Linked DNA regions of Homo sapiens: region 1 is linked to region 2. The links come from fine-mapping of genetic effects on gene expression. A gene starts in region 2. The other region holds a variant in brackets. All regions are shown on one strand. Distances are between the middles of the regions. Region 1 has its middle 30 kb from the start of PNPLA1. Region 2 holds the start of BRPF3 (bromodomain and PHD finger containing 3).

Region 1 (3,011 bases), 43 kb before region 2:
CCAGCAGGCATGAGCCACCCTTTGGGAGCCTGAGGCCGGAGGATTATTGAGGTTGAGAGTTCAAGACCAGCCTGGGCAACATAGTGAGACCTTGTCTCTATAAAAGAAGTTTTAAAAATTAGCCAGGTGTGATGGCTCATGCTTGTAGTCCCAGCTAATTGGGAGGCTGAGGTAGGAGGATCGTTTCTTGAGCCCTGGAGGTTGAGGCTGCAGTGAGCCATGATTGCACCACTGCACTCCAGCCTGGGCAACAGAATGAGACCCTGTCTCAAAAAATAAAATTAAATTAGAAAACAATAATAATTATTATTAATAAATAAAATAGTCCAATGAAAATAATCATACTATCTCCATGCAATGGAATTCTATACAAGAGTGAAAATGAACTAACTCCGGACATGCGTATCAGTACACTGAACTTCAGAACTATAATTATGGGTGGGACAAAAGCCAGCCATAGAAAACTATTCTATTCATAATCCCAAAAAGGTAGTATACCATATTCAATTATTATATATATTTATGTCTTGTTATATATAATGTTTATTACATTTATCTTAGTATAAAAATATAGTATATTTATCATAATCTATTATAAACAAGTAGTAGGATTATAAAAAGACAAAAAGGGCAGGATAAGCGTAAAATTCATGATAGTATTTAGGGGAAGAGGAGGGTGGGGCTGGAGAGAGGCACATGGTTTCAAAAGCCCAGCTTCTTTGTCTAAAACAGGGCGTGGGTACCCATACTGGTCTATTGTATTGTGGGTGTCTTTAAAATGTATATATATTCTATAACTACTATTTTTGTATCTACTCAATATTTAATTTTAAAATTTTAAATGAGGCCTAGAACACTATAAAAAGTATGCTACCATTTGTATAGAAAAAGTGGACACACACATCACTCATGTGCATAGATTAAAGTGTCTCTGGAAACTTACACATGCAACTGGTGAAACTGGTTTCCTCTGGGGAGGAGAACTGGGAGGCTGGGGACAAGGAGGGGCAATAAATCAATTGAAATTAAAAATCACAAAATTTAAGGAGAAGGAGACAAAGAAGGGAAGGAGGAAGAGAAGGGAGGGTGGAGGGGAGAGGCCAAGTCCTGGTCCCAGGAGGGACAGGGAGCAGAAAGAGGAGGACTGGCCAGGCTCTGGCTATCAAAACCTGTGTGTGCCACAGGCACGAGTGGAGCCAGAAGCCTGCAGTCCTGCCCAGGAAAGCCTGTGTCCTCCGCGCACAACTCAGGCTTAGACCCAGAGAATGCTCTTTCTTGCACCTGAGGACGGGGCTGGCTTCAAACAGTTGCCCAGGTTGACCCTGGCTCTGCAGTCTTTTGTTTCCAGAGCTTTGCTTCCAAACGAGGCTCCCTTGGGTCTCTTTCCCTGGCCCTGCCTTCTTATCTCCAACCTTCACCCCACCTGTGATCCAAGCGATTCCTTTGAAGTTGCTTCAGAGTCTTCTGAGCCTTCATCCTTGATGACTCTGAAATGTGCGTCTGTGGCACCAAGGTCAGCCAACAGCAAGTAGGCCCTTTTCATCTCCTTTTAAACCTTCCCCTCAAGGACTCAGTGTCCTTGCTGTATTGCCTTATCAAAACCTGCTCACA[T/C]ATCCTTTGTTCACACTGGGATACCGGTCATTTAAAGGAAAACAGGCCCACTCTAACCAGGGTCACTGCCAAGTCCCTAAGTATCATGCCCTTGAGAGGTAAAAGCATAAAGCACTAAGGGTAGAATTTTGGGCAACAGCCAGTGGACAAGGACAAAATGGGTGCAATATGCAGGGGTCCCTTCTGCCCCACCGGTAACCATAACACCTCAGGACACAGGCTGGGGTCTGTATTCAAAAGTGGGTCCCTCAGACCGGGCACAGTGGCTCACGCCTATAATCCCAGCACTTTGGGAAGCCAAGGCCAGCGGATCCCTTGAGCCCAGGAGTTTGTGACCAGCCTGAGCAACATGGCGAAACCCCATCTCTACAAAAAATACCAAAATTAGTCTAGTCGGGCATGGTGGTGCACACACCTATGGTCCCAGCTATTTGGGAGGCTGAGGGGGGAGAATCGCTTGAGCCCCAGGAGGCAGAGATTGCAGTGAGCTGTGATCGAGCCACTGCACTCCAGCCTGGGCAACAGAGTGAGACCCTATCTCAAGAAAACAAAAACAGAAAGTAAAAAAGCAATCCTCGAGCAAAAGTGGGTCCCTCAGAGCCCAATGACAGTGATGAGGAGGATGAGGTGGGAAAGGTAGTGTTACTCTGAACTAAAAAGGACTGCCCAGTGTGACCCTATCTCCCAAACAGCCCATGCAGGGATCTGGGTGGCACCATAGTACAGAAGTGGGTGCCAAGAGAGGCCTGGGCTGCACAGCCAGGTGCATACATGCCCTGGAGTCCAGGACAGGATCAGCAGCAAATCCACTCCAGGGAGCTCTCCCCCCTCACCATCCTCTCAATCAGGGTTCCCCAGTTGAAAAGCACCTTGGCAGTTCATAATTCTCCCTCTAAAGCCAGAAAGTGCTGTAAAGGATAACAGAAGCCTGGCTGCACAGTGGAGCTTAATGGAAGTCATTCAACAAGCAGGTCTGGAGCAAACATCATGGACCAGCAGTACTGTGTGTTGGCACAGATGTGAAGCAACTATACTCTGATACGGCTTGGATATGTGTCCCCACCCAAATCTCATATTGAATTTTAATTCCCAGTGTTAGAGGAGGGGCCGGGTGGGAGGTGACTGGATCATGGGGGCAGATTTCCCCCTTACTGTTCTCACGATAGTGAGTTCTCAGATCTGGTTATTTTAAAGTGTGTAGCACCTCCCACTTTGCTCCCTTCCTCCTGCTTTGGCCATGTAAGATGTGCCTGCTTCGCCTTCCCCTTCCGCCATGATTCTATGTTTCCTGAGGCCTCCCCAGCCATGCTTCCTATACAGTCTGCAGAACCGTGAGCCAATTAAACCTCTTTTCTTTATAAATTACCAAGTCTCAGGTATTTCTTTATAGCTGTGCGAGA
Region 2 (2,500 bases):
ATTATTAACATCTTTACTTGAAAGGCCTTCCAATCCCAAAGTGTGACTGAAACAAACAAAAAACCAATTTGGCTGAGGAGCAGTGCCAGGCGGGCTGGCACACACCCCATTTGGAGCCAAAGGAAACAGAATCATCGCAGCAATTCTGTCCGGGTTCCAGAGGCCCTTGGCTACTGGATTCCTTACAAATGCCAAGTCCCTGGGGGCAGACAGGGCCAACAGACCTGCTTCATCACCCACCCCTCCAAAGGCACCGAGGCCCTAGAAGAGGTGAGAACATCTGCCTCCACACCGACCCCAAACAGCGCAGACAGGCGGTGCGGCGCCCACTTTCATGAAAGCCGCTCCATCTTCTCCTTCCCCACCTGCCACCTCCTCGGCTGCTCAAGCATCTCTCGACCATGCAAGACTCTACACAGACGTGTTTTGTCCCACCCACGCCTCCAGACACCGGGGAGAAACTCTAGAGGGGGAAGGGACTGCTGATGAGGGAAATGAAAAGAGTTTCGCCCACAAGGAGCTTACAGTCTAGACGAGTTTTTTGGCGGGAGTTTCTCAACCTACACAGCCCTTCCCACATACACACCTCCAAAATATCTCCAACAACCCCCGCCCCCCCAGATTTCCCCTCGGCACCCCCTGACCCCTCGCTCACCCACCCCATCCAGGTCCCCGAAGAATGAGGAGCTTCTGCAATTAGACTGTATCCCCTGCACCTCACACAAGATACTCAGGAGACAAGGAGGACCCCAGCCAAGGCTCCTGCTCCTTTAAGGGGGCACCTCTTCCAGAAGAATCTTGACCCCTCGGAGAAGAAAGGAGGGAAATAACATCTCCTCAGAGGGGAGGGGCGAGCGCACCAGAGACAGCCTGACGTGGAGTCCGACCCTCAGACAGAGAAAGCGAGCGCCAGCGAATGAGCGGGGCGGAGAGGCGAGAACCCATTGGCTGCGTCACCTGCCCGTCAGAGGGACCCAGGGGACCTAGGGCCGCTCAAGGGGCGGGACTCTCGTCTGGCCAGGCCAATTGGAAGGCGTGGCGGGGGCGGGGCTTAGCGGCTCGGAATCCAGGGCTGGGGGGGGAGACAAGATGGCGGCTGCGGGAGGGGGTCCTCGCTTCTCAGCTCCCCCGCTCACCCGCCTTCTCCTTCCCTGCCGCCGCCCTCGCTCCAGGAGAGAGCTTTCGCACCGCCCCCGCCCTGCTCGGAAAGCCCCCCGCTTCTCCGGTTTCCCCCCGTGCAGTCCCTGGTCCCCGAAGGCCCCGATGCCCCCGCCCCCGCTCTGTCCGGCCCCGCTGCCGCCCCCATTACCTCAGCCGCCTGCCCGGCCCCACCGTTCGGGGCCCCTGGGCGCGGGCGGGCAGGCCGCCGAGCAGGTCGGCGCGGCCCGGGAAGCGGAGCGCGGTCTTCTCCCGCGCCTGCCTCCGTGGCCTCCGCCGTGCCCCCTCCCGGCCCGCGCTGGGGCCCCGGCCCGGCCGCCGCCGCCGCTCCCGGGGGAGGAGGGGGAATGGAGCCGCCGCTGCTGCCGCTGCCGCCACGGAGCCCGGCCGAGGGGAGGGAGGGATCAGCCCCCAGGCAGGATCCGCCCCTCCGGCCTCCCCCCGCCACCTCCACCCCTTCCCTCGCTCCCTCCCTGACTCTGCGGGCTCTCCCGCTGAACAGGAGCGAGAGCGCGAAAGAGGGGGAAACGGGAAAAAAATCCCCCCGCCCGTGCCTGGCGCGGCGGCGGCCGGGGCGGTGCGGAGAGGAGCGCGGAGGCGCCGCCGCCGCCGCCACGGGGCACCATCCCCGGCTCGGCCTCACGGTGGCGGTGCGGGCGCGGCGGGGACACCGAGCAAGAGACCGGGTCTGCGCCCGCCGCGATCCCTGCGCACCACGGCCCTGCCCGCCACGGGGCGAGCCCGATAAGAGGGCTGTGGACGTTCGGGTCTAGTTGGGAGAGACAGGGGTCCCTGACTCTTGAGCGGTCAGTCATTTCCTCCCCAGTCCTTGTGGGTGACGTGGCTACGGTTTGGAGCAGCAAGCCCCCTCCCCGAACTAAAGGGCCTCTCCAAAGGTTAAGCCAGGGCAGTCATTGAGGTCAAAACCAATATGTAGTTTCTTGACTGCAGGTGCCTGCACGACTCCCAGAAAGTCGCGTCTCCCCTAACCCCCATGCCCAGGACCTGAGGACAAAGGTCTAGCGATTGTCCATCCCCTCCCCCAGTGAGGACAGCCGGGAAAGACCTGCCTTTGTTGTGTACAGGTGAGCGTCTTGTTCCGCACCACACATCTTTTAAAAAAAAAAAAAAAAAATCTGACTTTCCGTTTAAAAGGAGTAAACAAAAGTTTGACAGTCTGCTTAAGCATGCCTGGTAACTCGTCTGTCACTGTGGGCATGGGAAACACTTTAAACCTGACTTGGTTAATTTAATGCATTAGGCGGCTTTCTAAAAGATGCTTGACAAATGGCAGCATCAGACCAAACTGGCTTTTGTTTTGATCTAAAAAAACAAAAAAATA

What was found. PIP is the estimated chance that this variant, and not a neighbour inherited with it, causes the effect.
Region 1: its variant is fine-mapped to the expression of BRPF3 in whole blood (TOPMed, PIP above 0.99).

Annotation. Positions count from the first base shown.
Region 1 is chr6:36,238,422-36,241,432 of GRCh38, reverse strand. No RefSeq gene overlaps it. Among named protein-coding and RNA genes, the nearest start is that of PNPLA1, 30 kb to the left of the region's middle. RefSeq lists a silencer at 1,307-1,601. The variant T/C (reference allele first, on the strand shown) is at 1,612.
Region 2 is chr6:36,195,780-36,198,279 of GRCh38, reverse strand. It overlaps BRPF3 (bromodomain and PHD finger containing 3), which reads right to left and starts at 1,536. Exons shown (of 13, transcript NM_015695.3): 1 at 1,310-1,536. BRPF3-AS1 (BRPF3 antisense RNA 1) reads left to right here and starts at 1,077. Exons shown (of 3, transcript NR_187147.1): 1 at 1,077-2,243. RefSeq lists an enhancer at 782-831 and a silencer at 1,182-1,921.